Linked DNA regions of Homo sapiens: region 1 is linked to region 2. A link means that fine-mapping ties the variant in region 2 to the expression of a gene that starts in the linked region. Tissue or cell type: esophagus mucosa. Region 2 holds a variant in brackets; the other region holds the start of a gene. All regions are shown on one strand. Distances are between the middles of the regions.

Region 1 (8,062 bases), 66 kb before region 2:
TCCTTTCCCCGTGTCTCTTTGGGCTTTCCTGGGCCCCACCTCATGCTGGTGCCCATGTGGCAGGGAGGATGGAGCAGGACCCCAGGCTCTAGGCCACCCAGGCAAGCCCAGCCTCTCCCCAGGCTTCCGTCTACTCCCCTGGGGCAACCTTGGGGAAGCTCTCCCTCCACGACTCCTCAATTAACTCTTCAATTAGGCACCAGGTCTAGGAACCGGGGAGAGGTCTAGGAACCTCGGAAGTGCCCCTTCTTCACCAGCCATCCCAGCTTGGGGCTGCAGCTGCCCGTTCAGGAAGAAGAAGCCCCTGGGGCCCCACAGCCTGAGAGTCCTCCTGTTCTCTCCCTCCTGGGCTTTGTCCCAGGACTCCAGAGTGAAGAGGGACTAGTCCAGCCCTTGTCCTCACTGTATAGATAGAGAAATGGAGGCTGATGAAGGGCCTTGAGCCTGCAGATCCAGTCCTGCCTGGAAATGACACTGGGTCCCCTTCACACCTGACTGCCCAGACCTCAGAGATGGAAGCCTGTCCCCTTGGCCTCACACATGCTGACCCACCTGTGCAGCCCATCTTGCAAAGGTAAAGCCCTAACAGGCCTTGGTCTGATGCTTCTCAACCAAGAAACCAAACGGCAGCTGCCACAGCATCATGAACTCCCACTGTGCAAGTGGGGAAACTGAGGCCCGGAAAGGGCAGGGCTTGCCCAGATCTGTACGCAGCCAATCAGAGGCAGAGACAAGCTAGACCCCAGGCCTCCTGCATCCTGAGGTAGGGCTCCTTCTACCTCTATCTTAGAGCTGAGGAAACTGAGGCTCAGAGAAGCTAAAGCGATTGACCTGCAGAACTCAGGCTGGGCCTTGCAGTCCCAGTCTGGCGCTCCTTCCACCCTACTCTGCAGCGCCATGGCCCTCTAGAGCCTCCTGGCCCCACCTCCGTGGGAGTGGCAGGTGTGGGACTGCCCAGGGAAGGGGGCGGCCTTTATGGATGTTCCCAACCGGCCTGGGCCTTTCCTCTCACCCCACCGCTTCCGTGGTTCACAGGAGAGTGGGACTCCCCTCAAACCCTCCCCCTACCCAGGAAAGCCAAGAAGGGGGTGGACAGCCCAGACCTGGGACCCCGAATACTTGAGGGGCTGGGAGTCTTCTGGTGCCTGGCCTGGGTGGAGGTAAGGTAGGGAAGGATCCCCAGGTTATTTCTGGGCAGGTGCCTCTATGGGCAGCCAGGTTCTGATCCCCTCTCCCCAGCCCCCATCCCACCAGCTCAGCCTGCGTCCCAGGCACCCACCAGGTGAGCATTCCAGGCCACTGGGCCATGTTGGCTTTCAGTTCCTGTGCCAAGTGCCCCTTTCATCTCCAGCTCACTCTCCAAAGCCCAGGCCAGCGGAGGCTCCTGGGTGAGTCCCCGGCTTTCCAGCCTCACTGAACACTTCCCTGCTCCCAGCTGTGCTGGGGCTCCCTGTGCCCAACAGTCCACAGAGCTAGGCAGCTTAACTCAAATCCTGCCTCTACTACCTCTGAGCTGTGACACCCTGCTAGGTAGAGTCCCCCATCTCTGTGTGCCCCAGTCTCTGTTTCCTCTTCTGTGCAACGGGGGTAATAGCAGCACCCACCTCACAGGGTGGTTGGGATATTTAAATGGAACAATATACATAAGGCACTTAGAACGGCACCTAGCACAAAGTGAGGCCATGTGTGTGTAGACATATATGTACATATACATAGATATATGCACGTGGCCTACACACGTGTATCTATATATACACATGCATACACAGATCGTTGTTATTCTTAAACTCCACCCCTTTTCCCACCTCCCCCTCTATCTTAAACTCTAGCAAGACTTTAATCCCCTATTGCTAGACTATCAGTTTCTCATAGGAGTGCAGTATGATCTAACTTACATGACCCAAGCTCTCGGAGCAGCGTCTGGGGCACTTAGGAGTAGGCTCTTGTGGTGCCTGGTTTCTCCAGGTCTCCCCGCATGCGCTGTTCGGCCTCCAGGCTTCTGCTCGTGCTGTGCCTCCCGCCTAGGACGCCTGCTTTGCACTCCGTCTCTGACCATCCAAATCCTCCCTGTCCTTCCAATCCTGGCCTATGCATCTCCCTTAGATAGAACTGATCACTCCTCCTCTGGGCTGCCATGCTCCCTCTGCTAGGACACAGACCATAGTCCACTTTGTATTTCTATATGTCCATCTCCCCCAAGAGCCTGGGGGCTTATTTAAGGCACACAATGAGTTGTACCCATTTCTGTGGCAGCCTGACTTTGCAGTGGGGACAGAGGACATGGACGTCAGGTTTAGCCAGCCGTCCATCCCACCACAGGCCAGCGTGGGGGCTTGCGTGCATCATGCCCTTTGCAGGGTCTCGGTGTTCCCACTGTGGAGCAGGGATGATGGCAGTGACCCCACAGGACTCTTATGGGCGGCAAATGACACCCAAGCCCACTGCAAGGCCTCTGACGCTCCTTCAGCCAATCCTCTCCTTCCCTGGACCTTAGTATCCTTATCTGTAAAATGGTGGCGGTGGATGAGAGAGCTTGGACTCGCTGATCGGAGGTCCCTGCCAGCTGGAACAGTGCTGGGTACCCCATTGCAAAAGGAAGGTGGCTGGTTTCTCACAGAACTCCTCAGGGACAGCTGGGAAAAGCTAGTGCCCAGGGCTGGGAGATTGCTGAGACCAGGCTTCTTGTAAACAAGAAAGGCAGGAAGACGGGGTTCCCTCCTCGAATCGTCAATTAATCAATAACTTGGCCTGAGAAGGGGCAGGGCCAGTGACCTCCAGACTGTTTGCTGGCGGCGCAGCCACTATCACCCTGTCTTCCAACTAATTCACAAACCCTTTGCAGCGCCCTCCCCAGCCCCCACAACCTGCCCCCTGCTGTCTTATCTGCAGGCTCCCTGCCCTGGCCCCAGATTCCAGACCCTTGTCCTGTCCTGGACTTTCCCTCTCAGGGAGCCCCTCTGCCCACAGCGTCCTCTCCATTGCCCGAACCAGCCAACTCCCAGCAGCGCTTCAGTCACCAGAGGCACAGCCTCGGAAAAGCTTCCCGGTGTCTCACATCTGTGTCCCCACCAGGTGGGCTTCCTTCCTCTAGGCCTCCAGATTCCCGCTCTGGTTTCTCCTCGGGCACTTGGACACTTGTGGAGTTATTTACAGCCTGGGCTTATCTCTCTCAACTTAGAGCGCAGCTCCTCCGGGAAGGGGCTGGTGTTTACTCCTCTCTTCACCACCCCCAGCCCCCTGAGCAGGCACTCCCTTCAGCTCGGCACCAAGCCTCTCTCTCCCTCCTACCCCTGCGTGAATAATTTCTATCTAAAGGAATGCCCTGCACATGTGCACAGTGGCATCTGACAGCTTCTGAGGTCCTTTCAGGAGCCTCTTCTCATCTGATTTGAGGGAGGTGGGGAGTCTCACCCTCCCGTGACAGAGGAGGACAAGGAGGCCCCAAGAAGTAGAGTGACACTTTCCCAAGGTCGCCCAGGTGGAGGGGTCAGGAGTGTCTCAGCGGAACTCCCGCTAGGGTCAAGGAGACTGACGGACAAGGACCGCTCCTGGGCTGGCCGCTCTGGATTGCGCCCCCTGAACAGAATGTCTTTTTCCATCTGCCCCTGCGGAGGTGGCCAGAAACTCCGTGGCCCTTGCGCCACCGTCAGCTGCACAGGACCAGGCGCTTCCATTGTGGTCCACGCCCGTCTCACTCCCTTTTCGCAAGCCTGCGGGAGGCAGGGACATTTTACAGAGGAGGAAACAGAGGCTGAGGGATGACTTGCCCACGACCGCCAAGCCAGCTTAGGCTCCCGGGTCTTGGTGCGCTCGCCCCATCCAGGGGACCCCAAAACGCCCTCCGCCGCCCCAGTCCCTGGCCTGTGCGCGTGGACGCGGGGTCCCTACTCACAGCCACTTGATGCCATAGCACACGCCGGTCTGGAGCGCCAGGGCGAAGAGCAGCGCCTCGCAGACCTGCGGCCGCGCCCTCATCGTCGCGCGGCGGGCGCGCCCGGGGTCACACCCAGGAGGAGCCGCGCCGAAGTCCTCCGCCTGCACGGCCGCCGCTGGTCCTGCACGCCGCCTGCAGCCGGGGAGAGCGGAGGCGGCGGGTTAAGGCGGCGCGCGGGCGGGGGAGGCGTTTTATTCAAATTACAAAGGAGGGGTCGGGGCCCGGGGAGGCCGAGCGCGGCGGGCGTCCCCTCCCGCTCCGCCCGGCCGGGGGACGCGTCCCGCGCCTGGCTCGAATTAGGCGCGGCCGAAGGCGTGTCTCCCAGCGTGGCCCCGGGCCCCAACGCGCCTTCGAGCCCCTCTGGCCGGGGCAGCCGGAAGGAGGGACAGGAGGCGGCAGAACCGGAGACCCAGGAGAGACCGGGCAGACACAGCGAGAGGGAGAAGGACGCTCAGAGGACAAGGCTGAGAGCCACGGAGACAGAGGGGGAAACCCGGACAGACGCAACCTGGGACGGAAAGGAGAGGAATGAGGAATCAGGAGTCCAGGCGAGGCAGCAGAGTCGAGGACCCGGAGCTGGGGCTTATCCCTGCAATATTGAGCATTAGTTAATAGGGCCTCGGCAATTCTCCTTCCCAAACGTGTTTCAGTTTACCTCCTCAGTAAGCTGGGGCAATTCGGGCACAATTCCGCTTTTATAAAGAACGTTCCCTGGCCGGGCAGGGTGGCTCACGCCTGTAATCCCAGCACTTTGGGAGGTCGAGGCGGGCGGGTCACCTGAGGTCAGGAGCTCGAGACCAGCCTGCCCAACATGGCAAAACCCCGTCTCTACTACGAATACAAAAAATTAGCCGGGCGTGGTGGCGGGCGCCTGTAATCCCAGCTACTCGGGAGGCTGAGGCAGGAGAACCGCTTGAACCCGGGAGGCGGAGGTTGCAGCGAGCGGAGATTGCGCCACTGCACTCTAGCCTGGGCGACAAGAGCGAAACTCCGTCTCAAACAAACAGACAAACAAAAAAAGTTCCCTAACACGATCGCATCTGCTCCTCCCAGCACCCCGTGAGATAGGCACTATCGCTGCCTCATCTCACAGATGAGGAAACTGAGGCACAGAGGTGGGGTTCAGCTAGGGAGCGGCAAGCCGGGTGTCCGGCGAAATCAGGAAATGGGGCTTGCTCGGGGCCCTGCTTTCTCGGTGTGGGAAGGGGAGGATGGGAAACGGGATGGTAGGGCTCTTTGTACAGTGAGGATTCCGAGTCTCCAAGTCCGTCTTTAGCCGCTCCACTTTGGAGGGTGGGAGTGGAAGCATGCGGGCTGGGACTGGGCAGCCCCGCCTTAGCGAAGCGGGGAAGCTCGCGGGGCTGGCGCGGTGTTGCCTCTGGCCTCCAGGCGGCGCCCTCGGGCCGCGGAGGAGAGGCTGCCCCGCCCGCCCGCAGCCCGCGGAGCAGCTATCTCCGCTTTTTTTCTCCTTCACTTCATTCTCACCTCATTAACTCCCTTCCCAGCTTCTCCCAAATTTACCAACACCTGGCGTTCGCCCGGAGTCAGACACAGCCCCAGCCCCTCTCCCCTCGGGAGGAGCAGAGACAAAGGGATTCCTTTCTAAGGGTTTGGGGAGTTGGAAAAGGAGGCGCCCACGGTAGTGGGGGCGCTGGAGCAGAAAAGGGACGTTCTTATCTGGCTCTGTGAGCTTGGGCAAGCCCTCAGCCACCCCAGCCTCGGTGTCCCCTTCCATAAGAACGAGGAATGGGGCTTCGCCGTGCGTCCCCCGAGGACCCCGTCTCCCTGCAGCCTGCGGGGCTCAGCGCCCCTCTGCTATTTGCACCGCGACGCCACCTGCGTGGCGCGTTCCTGCGCGTGGGTAGTCAGCACGCAGAGATGGGAAGCCCCACTGTTTTCTGGAGCCTGTCGGCAAAACCCACAGGAAGGCGAGGAGAAGCCTGGATCGTACAGTTTTTTTCCTCCGCAGAGCCCCGCAGCTAGCGCCCAGCACAGGGGCGCCTGCGACAAACATGCCGTCAAGGCTGGGGGTCTCAGAGGGGTTCTCGGTGTAACCCAGTCCCGTCCTCCCACCCAGCCTGTATCCAAATCCTTTGTCTTCCTGGTCCTGCAAGTTTCTTGCACTTCTCAGAACGAGAAAAATATCCGCTGGATATGGAGGGGGGAATCAAAACTCCAGTCACCGTCTTCCCCTCTCCCAAAGTGCGCCGCCCCCCGAAGGCACCCGGCATTCCTGGGTGGGGAGGGGGCGGGGGCTGCAAGAGGACGGAGGCGCGCGGACTCACAGCGGGGGATCTGTGTCCAGCCTGGTCTCCCAGGGAGAGGAGGAGCCCCCTAGGTCGCACAGCGGACGGGGACCCAGGCCTCCAGCCCCGCCCAGCTCTTTCGGTGCAGCCCCGGCTGTCCCAAGGCTCTCCCTCCGCCGCCCAAGCTCGTCGCGCGGGGAGGCAGCGCCTGGCCCGAGCCTCTGGGTCCTGACGGACTGTTCCTGTCCCTTGTACGAGCGCCCGGGACAGCCGCGCAGGCCACGGGGTCACCTTCCGCCTGAGCTCGCGGGTCAGGGTGCACGCGCCTCCTGAAGCCCCCAGCCCGCCAGGGGGCGCTAAGCCGGGGCTCGAGGAGGGGGGAATCGCGGCTGCCTCCTGCGTCGCGGGCTGGGGTCAAGTCCTCTTCCTGGGCCCCCGCTTCTCCGTCTGGGGATGGGACGACGTGTCGAGGGAGTGCCCCCTGTGTCCTGGTCGTTCTATAGGACACTTGCCGTGGGCCGCCCTGACCTGCCCGGCCCCTTGCTTGGGGCCGGGCGCGTAGTGGGCCGCGCCAGGCGTAGCACCTTTGGAGAGCGAGCGGTCACCTCCTCGAAGTTGGTCCGAGCTACCCTGCCTGCAGCGGGCCCGGGAGGCGGCCGCCTGGGGCTGTGCACAGGGAGAACACCACGAGCGCAGCGCCGCAGCCCAGCGCCGCCAACAGATGGTCATAGGCCCGGTCTGTGGAGGACTCTGGAAAGCCGGCCGCTGGGACCAGGCCACGCCGGCCCGGCGAGGACTTGCGGGGTCCCCCCTACCCCGACGCCCCACGGGCACCGTGCACCGGGGCCGATTGTCCGCGCGGCGCGCAAGGTCGGCACGGGCGGGTCCCGAAGCCTCCCGCCACGCAGCTCACGGAGCTGACCCCGCCAACCAGGGACGCCGAGCGACGGCTTCAAGGTTACCTGCGGGGCGGGGCGAGGCCGGGCCTGCCACCCGGCTTTGACCCCAGCCGTGAGGCTTTCGAGAGACGTCTGCTTGGCTGCGCACGCGGCGCCGGGTCACCCGGGAGACGGGTTGTTTTGGAAGTGGGAAGGGTGGGTGGGAGCACTCGAGATCCCTCCTGCTAACCCCCTGGAGCCGGACCCTGCACGCCCAGGGCCTTGAGGGACACCGAGGCACTTCAGCCCCGGGGGTGGGAGGCGTGGAGCTCGTGCGCGAGCTCAGCCAGATGTTCCGGGCGGTTGCAGATGTGCCTCGGGGCCGGGGACAGGACTTTCCTCCTCCCTAGCCCCCAGCCTGGAGCTCAGGTCAGTAAACAAACTCGGTTCTCCCCCTCCCCCCGCCGCCCCTGGGACCCGTTCTCAAAGCCAGGCTTCTGCCCCCATCCCCAATTTACTAGGCGCTGCCGCATTTCTTTGCCTTTTGCCACCCTTTCCCCCCGCCCACCACACACACCCTCTGTCGCGGGATCCAAGTCCCCCACCCCCGGGGGTGGCTCGGGCATGACCTCATCCGCCGAACGACTGGGAAGGAGGGGGTCGCCTGGGGTGCGGGGGCAGAAGAGGGGGGCCGGGCCGGGAAAGTTCGAGGAGGGCCGCAGGAACTGCACAACCCACCACCGTCCCGCGTGCCCCTAAACCCCGCGTCCCCAGGCTCCCGAGGCTTCGCTCCGCAAAGGGGAACTCTTCGGAGTGCTGCGGGGGAAAGGTATGGAGGAGCGCTTGGTTTGCTTACCCGGGAGTGGGTGCCCAAGGGGGTCGTGGCGGGTGCGAGAAGCGTCGTCCCCCTCGGACTCGGGCGCCCCCAGCCCTGGCGGGTCCCCGCTGAGCGGCTGCCCGCTGCCCGCGACCACTGCTCACCTCCCGGGGCGCTCGCCAGGCGC
Region 2 (8,174 bases):
GCCAGAACAGTCCTTTGGTGCGGTACTTGACACCTGTTGAGATCACTGCTACAAAGGCACACACCTCTTCACTATAGGAAGACCACTCTCTAAGACCCCCACCATGCTGTGAGCTTTGCTAATTTGCTTATGAAGATGCTTCTACTTGGAATTCTGTCTTCCAAATTCTGACCTAGAGTTTAGCCACCCATCACCCATCCAACCATCCATCTATCCATCCATCCATCCCTCCACCATCCATCCATCCATCCATCACCCATCCATCCACCATCCACCCATCCATCCATCCATCACCCATCCATCCACCATCCACCCATCCATCCTCTATCCAACCATCATCCATCCATCCATCCTCCATCCATCCATCCATCCATCCTCTATCCATCCATCCATCCATCATCCATCCATCCACCCATCCATCCATCACCCATCCATCCACCCATCCATCCATCCATCCTCCATCCATCCATTCATCTATCCATCTACCCATCACCCATCCATCCACCCATCTATCCATCATCCACCCATCTCCTCTGTGCCAGGCCCTGTACTGTACAGGGACTTAAGGACCAAGGATGAAGCCAACCTGACTCCTATTCTCAGGGAGCTGTCAGGTAAGTGGGGAGTCAAACGTATAGGTAGACATCATAGACAATGACAATGCAATGGGCCAAGTGAGATGACAGAGTGGGGTGTGTTCGGCCATGTACCTTACAGGTAAGACTACCAGCTTTGGTCTTGAGCACCTGAGTTTGATCCTTACCTGGGCAGGTACTCATGGTGTGACCTCAGCTGTGTGGCTTTAATCTCTGGGCTTTGGTTTTCTCAGCTATAAAATCAGAGATTAAAAAACTCTAATATCCCAAGGCTGTTGTGCCAGTAGGTTGGGACAAAGATTCATGGTGGGTCCACATGTCCTGGTAGGGGTCTCAGAGAATCAGAATTGGCCAGTCACTGGCTCCTTCCTGGCAGACCTATGTAGCCAGCTGCTCTCACCTGATGGTATACAGGCTGTTCTGCGGCAACCAGGTTGGGCAAATTTCTGCTGACAGGACGATTCGTAGATTGATTCAGAGTTCACTGAACTTCCAGGGCTGGCCCAGTGTCCTCACTGTGTCCTGGTCTGGCTAGAATGACCCTGCTCTGGGCGGGATGCTTGGCTGGGGGAAGGTGAATGAGTCAGTAGCTGCTCAGAGGCCCTTCTGGGGCCCGCCACTCACCAAGCCGAGCCCCTGCCCTGGGCCAGCCCCAAGTATCCAGTGACACTGGAGGACATCAAGATGATCAGACATTCCCTGACCCCAGGGAGCTCCCAGTCTGGTGGACAAACCATGGGCCCATCTCATCCTTTTAGCATGTCCATATTACCCCCAGTGACTTCCACATTGCTAGATGGCTAGTGGCTACACTTTTGTCCCCATCGCCTGTAACCTCTCAGCTGCCTCTGGCCCGCTGACCTCTCTCCTTTGGGGCCCCTGTGGCGAACGCCATGCTCCCGCTCAGAGGAAGACTCCCGACCGTGGTTCCAGCACTCCTCGGCTGCCCTACACCGCCTCAGGGAGGAGGAAATCACCCCACTTCCCCATCTTCCCCCAGCCCCAGTGTGCTCCCCAGCCCCATGGCCTACAAAATAGCAAACAGCTGCTGTGACCAGGGCTGCCCAGACCCCAGGGGCCAGGGGGGAAGCGGGCCAAGGGGAACTTGGAGAAAGAGCTCTTAATAACATACCTTCCCCAAGCTGCTTCCAAAGAAACTTCTCCTCACAAATCATTCCATAAACACTTAGCAGGCTCTCAGGAAAGCGTGCACAGCTCTCACCCGGCTATTAGGAGGCTCCTCACAACTAAATTGAGACCAGGCAGCAGAGGCCTGTGCCAAATCCCCCTTTCCTGCCCTCTTCCCACATGGCGTCCTCCCCCCACCCTGGGCCCTTCAGTTCCAAGGGCCAAGGTCTCCTCCCCTGCTGCTCCGGCCTCTCCTCCGGCTCTGGCCCTCTCTCCCTGCTGAGCTCAGGGTGCCCTGCTTCCCTGGAAACCAGGCCCCCTCCCCAGCATGGCTGCTGGGTTTCCAGAGAGCTCTCCTGGGCCACTATGTAGAGCTAAATCCTAATGAGACTTCTGAGGGCCACACCACCAGGCCAGGCATGGACAGACTGGGCCAGCCCACACCCCCACTCTGTCCCAGCCACCCCTCAGCAGAGGCTGCTGGTGCCTCTCAGGCTGGGGCTGCTCAATAGGGAAATAACTCCAGGTTCATCCAAGTCACAAGCTAGAAAATCCCTCCCATCCAACAATACCCCTCCAGGGAGAGTGTTGTGCAACCCACTCAGCTGGATAATATCCAGCACTTGGCTAATAGCCAATGGGGATCAGGGAATTGCCTGATTGTACGTAGGTTGACACATTTGCTTATAGGTTAGCAGCTCACTTGTGTAATGACTTTCATTAAGGTCTTGGAGAACAATAGTAGGAGCTGGCACCCCAGTCTAGCTCTTCATCATCATAGGCTTTGGAAAACACTTCAAGAATGATCGCCCCTTTTTCTAGGTTTATCCAATATCATTTTGAAGAACAAAAGCCTCTATTGTAAACAGAAATCATGGTTGAAATAAATAAAACATTCAGATGAAAATAAACATGAAGATTTGTGGGCACTGAAATTAGCAGTGGATGGGCTTTGAGAGAGGCAGGGCCTGGGCACAGATCTTGGATCAAGTCCCAGCCACCAGTGATTGGAAGGCTGATGATGGGCAGGCCCCTGTGAACGTCAGTTCTTCAACTCTAAAATGAGGATAAATCTTACCTATCTCGAAGAGCTGCCGGGACCAGCTCCTCCTGCTCCACCACCTCTTCACAGGAGGTCAGTGGAGGGCCTCCCAGGGAACCCAGAGGCTGGAGGCCTTGCCACGGCACCAGGCCTTCTGCTTCACTCCAGGAGTTCAATCACAGGTCACTCATTCAGCCTTTCTTCCAGCAAACATTGAGGAAGCCTCTTCTACACACCAGGCACTGAGCGAGGCACCGATCAAGACAGACACAGGCTTGCCCCATGAGGAGCAAGCAGAAAAGGAGGACAAGCACGAAAGGACAAGTGCTGACCTGCAGTCACGGTAAGAGTTACAGTGGCCCGAGTCAAAGGACTGAATGTCTCCTTCCACAGGGCAGGGAATCGGACTCCCGGCTCCAAGCTGCCCAGAAACAGAACTCCAGGCCCAAAGGCGCCCGTGAGAAGAATCAGGCTTCTTGTGTGTTGGCTGTAGTGGGAGAAAGAATGGAAGGAGAGGGTCTAGACCACTATGATGATGATGACGATGAAGGTGAAGGTGGTGGTGATAGCCGCAGTTCGCAGAGCACCCACCTAGTGCCAAGCACCATGCTTTACTTTCATTGCGGATGATCCTCACCACGGATGGGGCACCCCATCTTTACTAAAAATACAAAAATTAGCTGGGTGTGGTGGCGCCCACCTGTACTCCCAGCTACTCGGGAGGTTGAGGCGGGAGAATCGCTTGGAGGTGGGAGAATCGCTTGAACCTGGGAGGTAGAGGTTGCAGTGAACCGAGATCGCACCACTGCACTCCAGCCTGGGCAACAGAGTGAGACCCTGTCTCAAAAAAAAAATAAAATAGGGCTAATCATTCTTACTTTATGAGCTTAAGATGTAATTACAGATGGGGCACTGCAGTTCAGAAAGGTGATGTGAGTCATCCAATGTCACACATCTTGGAGGCAGAAGGGGCAAAATGGAAACCCAGGACTGTCTGACATCAAGAAAACATGGCAGTGGGCCCCTTCTCCAGACCTGAAACAAAAGAGTCACCTCTGGAAACAGTGAAGTGGGCACCACTCCGCGTTGTGTGATCTGTGGAACTCAGGACAGACCCTGCAGCCTCTTCCAAAGCCAGTGCTCCCAGATGTTGGGACCTGAATATCCAGCCCTGGTTCCCTGCCCCTTTGCACCCACCGTTATCCTCCTTA[G/A]ACATCTCCGTCTCATATACATCCCCAGGGAGGCTTTTTTTGGGTGGAGGTCAGGGGATGGGGTCTTGTTCTGGCACCCAGGCCGGAGTGCAGGGGTGTGATCACAGCTCACTCAACTTCCTGGGCTCAAGTAATCCACCTCAGCCTCCCCAGTAGCTGGGACCATGGCCACGAGCCACCATGCCCAGTTAATGTTTTTATTTTTCGTAGAGACAAGGTCTCACTATGTTGCCCAGGCTGGTCTTAAATTCCTGGCCTCAAGGGATCCTCCCACCTCAGCCTCCCAAAGTGCTGGGGGTTACAGGTGTGAGCCACCGTGCCCAGCCCCTGGGGACTTTTAAGTAGCAATCCCTCCATTCAGCAGTGAGGTGGTGCTGCCTGTCCACCTGCGTGCCTGTCCTCACATCGCCTGGCTCAATGGGCCCTAGACTGCCCACCTCTCTCCATCACACCTGCCCTTTCCCTCCCCAAAGCTTTGGCCTGTCTTCTTCTAATGGACTCCTACCTATTCCTCAAGGTTCAGCTCAAACTCCACTTCTTACCAGAACTTCTGATTCCTCACCTTCCACGAAGGTGACACAAGAGAGGAGAAAAAACACTAGTTATCACCTTAGAAAACCTAGCCCTAGCCCTTACCTAATGTGCCACAACTGTGAACAAATCACATTTCCTCTCTCTGGATCAGTTATCTTAACTATAAAATAGGGCTAATAGGCCAGGCTTGGTGGCTCAGGCCTATAATCTCAGCACATTGGGAGGCCGAGGCTGGTGGATCACTTGAGGCCAGGAGTTCAAGACTAGCCTTGCCAATATGGAGAAACCCCATCTTTACTAAAAATACAAAAATTAGCCGGGTGTGGTGGCACGCACCTGTACTCCCAGCTACTTGGGAGGTTGAGGCGGGAGAATTGCTTGGAGGCGGGAGAATCGCTTGAACCCAGGAGGTGGAGGCTGCGGTGAGCTGAGATCACACCACTGCACTCCAGCCTGGGCAATAGAGTGAGACCCTGTCTCAAAAAAAAAAAAAAAATAGGGCTAATAATTCTTACTTTGTGAGCTTAAGGTGGTGATTAAATGAGGTATGAATATAAATGCTCTTTATAAACAACAGAGTGCACCGGGCATGGTGGCTCACGCCTGTAATCGCAGCACTTTGGGAGGCTGAGGCAGGCAGATCACTTGAGGTCAGGAGTTTGAAACCAGCCTGGCCAACATGATGAAACCCCATCTCTACTAAAAATACAAAAAAAAAAAAAAAAAAAAAAAGAAGCTGGGCATGGTGGCACCCACCTATAATCCTAGCTACTTGGGAGTCTGAGGCAGGAGAACTGCTTGAACCCAGGAGGCGGAGGTTTCAGTGAGCTGAGATTGTGCTACTGCACTCCAGCCTGGGTGACAGAGCAAGACTCTGTCTCAAAAAATAAAATAAACAAAAAATAAACGACAGAGTGCTAAAGCATATGATTTATAATCAACAATCTCATTGCCACATAAAGTGACAAAAATTGGCTTAGTCAAAAAAACAAAGAAGGAAAAGAAAAATATTAAGTCATCTAACTGCAAAGTCCAAGGGCATGAGAGTTTCAGGCATGGCTTTATCTAGGGGCTCAAATTCTGCCCCCAGGACCTGCTCGCTCCATCTCTCGGTTCTCCTGGTTCCCATGTTGGCTTCATTTTTAGGCTCCAAGTGGTGAAAAGATAACTATAAAATTAACTTCCAGGTTCAGGTCCAGCCAAAAAAAATTTTGTTAAGAGTCCTCCTTTGTCAGTAGACCCAGCAAGCATTCAAATATGTAACCCATTGCTTCTAACGGGTCGTGAGTCCATCTGTGAACAAGTCCTTGTGGCCAGGAATATGTGAAGCTCTGACTGACGGGGCCTATGTCTCACGGCCAGCTCTGGAGCTCTGGAGTTGGGGGTGGGGACAACACTATCTGAAATATAGGAGCCAATGAGTAGGGAAGAGTGGATGAGAGGAATAATTACCTTAGAGCAAAAGCAGAGTCCTGCCACCAGAATAAAAGGGGAAAGGATGTTGAGGACAAGATAATAACTGCCCACACAGTCCACCCCTTTGAGGGCTGACATTTATGCATGCCTTTACTTGCACACAAAATAATACCTTCCCACTTCCTCCCCTCTCTCAAATAGAAGACAAATCAGAGACTCATAATACTGAGTTCAGAATCTCTGGGTGACTTATATTATTTTCCTTCAGAGTTAGATGTATTCTTGAGGTCTTGCAATCTGTGGCTGAAAGATTATCCCTCCAACAGACCATGACTCCATAATGGCAGAGAGAATTGGGTAACTGCAATAACAATTCCTACTGAAAAGGGAGAAGAAAGGAAAGCAGCACACGGCGCTACCAGTCCACAGCATTCACCAGTTCCTGATGAACAGGGACAGCAAAGTCTTCCTGTCCTGGGTGGAGAAATGAGTTACTTGAATGGAGTGGTAGGCAGAATATGCTCCCCACCCGAAAGATGTCCACAGCCTGATCCCTGGAGCCTGTGCCTATGTTATGTTAAATGGCAAAGGGGAATTAAGATCACAGACGGAAATCGGGTGCTAGTCTGCTGACCTTAAAATCAGGAGATAATGCTGGATTACCTGGTGTGCCACTGTAAGCACAGCGTCCTTGAAAGTGAAAGAGGAGGCAGCAGAAGAGTCTGTGTCTGAGTGATGGGAGGCAGGAAAGACTCAATCAGCCATCGCTGACTTTGAGGAGGGAAGGGGGCCACTAGCCAAGGAGTGCGGGCAGCCTCTAGAAGCTGGGAAAGGCAAGAGAACAGGATCTCCCCAGAGCCTCTGTAAAGGAGCGCAGTTCTGACACTCTGATGCTAGCCCAATAAAGTACATTTTGGACTTCTGTCCTATGGAATTGTAGGGTAATACATTTGTGTTAAGTCCTTGAGTTTGTGGGAATTTGTTACAGTGACCATAGTGAGACAGCGACACAGCAAATCCCACTACCACGATACTCCTTTTGTTCCCACTGTTATGCCTCCGGCTGGGAATGGAACAGACACTGCCACTTTTGGTCCCCCTAACAATCTTGGGAGAAGGTGTAATCATCCTTAGGTTACGGATGAGAAAACAGAGGCTCAGGTAACAGACAACTGCTAAAGGCAACCAGTTAGTGGAAGAGGGAGCCAACAGGCAAACCCTCGCCTGTCTGACTTGGAGCCGGGCTGGGGTCCTCATATAACTTCCTCGCCCAGTGGTCCTCTTATCTCTGCTGAAACCCTCCAGCCACAGAGGCTCACACCTTGCAAAGCCCCAGGCCTCCCTGCTCCCTCCTGGCCTCATGCCTTGCATGACCTGATGGATGGTGGCTAGAATAGCCAGTGGAGGGCGGCCAGAATGTCAGACTCTGGCCAGTCAGCGGGCAATGAATCCAGGACACAGTTGCCTTGTTGGTGGGCCCAGGCTGAGCATCCCTACTCACGGGGAGCAGGTTCTGTTTATCAAAATCTAGACTTCTGCCCTCCTCTCCTGCCTCCAGCCTCCACGCTCCCCTTGGCTGAACTGGGTTTTGGAATGCATTGCTTTGTACTAAATGGAGAAAATGTGGAACCTTGTCTTTCAAGATTTATTCTTCTCTGTGCTGTCACCTCCACTCCTGTCTAATCCTGGAATGTCCCCGGGGTGGGTGAGGTGAGGGAGGGCAGCTATGGCTCCTCCGATTTCTTCCTGACAAATGTAAAATGGGCCAGGGGGGCCACAGGGGAGGTAAATCGATCCCAAAAAGTGCCTTGTGTGCAATTTGGGGATGAGAGAAAGTTCATGTAGAGATAGGGCTCCGAGGATGCACCCCCAGGGGCTGGCCTGGCCAGCTGATGACCAAAAACAACTGCCTCCCTCCTCCCCAACACACGCAACCCACACACAGGCCCAGGCTTACACCCCCCAACTGAGTGGGAACAGTCAAGATCCCAGAGGCCAGACCACAAAACCTAAACACAGACTCCAGAGGGCAGATGAGACCCAGGGGAACGTCTCCTCTGACCTCTTCATTGGCCTAGAGAAGGGAGGTGCCTTGCCTAAGGTCACATGGCAAAGCCGGGACTACCGCCTCATCAAGCCTCAGTTTCCCAGGGGTAAAATGCAGGCCTGATGAGAAGCTCAAGTGAGGCAGAAATTGCTAAGTGAATGTGACAGGGAAGTAATTACAGCCCAGCAAGGATTGGGAGC

Which allele goes with the higher level. Positions count from the first base shown, and alleles are read on the strand shown. Sizes are in standard deviations (SD) of each study's normalised expression.
With allele G in place of A in region 2, the expression in esophagus mucosa of the gene that starts at base 4,070 in region 1 is lower (large effect, 1.5 SD a copy in GTEx).

The links. PIP is the estimated chance that this variant, and not a neighbour inherited with it, causes the effect.
Region 1: WNT11 starts here. The variant in region 2 is fine-mapped to the expression of WNT11 in esophagus mucosa (GTEx, PIP above 0.99).

Annotation. Positions count from the first base shown.
Region 1 is chr11:76,202,433-76,210,494 of GRCh38, forward strand. It overlaps WNT11 (Wnt family member 11), which reads right to left and starts at 4,070. Exons shown (of 5, transcript NM_004626.3): 1 at 3,893-4,070. The coding sequence starts at 3,975. LOC112268079 (a long non-coding RNA gene) reads left to right here and starts at 7,395. Exons shown (of 2, transcript XR_002957259.1): 1 at 7,395-7,487; 2 at 7,833-8,062. RefSeq lists silencers at 3,983-4,222, 5,203-5,422 and enhancers at 4,527-5,194, 6,529-7,195, 6,814-6,863, 7,196-7,862.
Region 2 is chr11:76,268,310-76,276,483 of GRCh38, forward strand. No RefSeq gene overlaps it. Among named protein-coding and RNA genes, the nearest start is that of TRP-TGG2-1, 37 kb to the left of the region's middle. The variant G/A (reference allele first, on the strand shown) is at 3,978.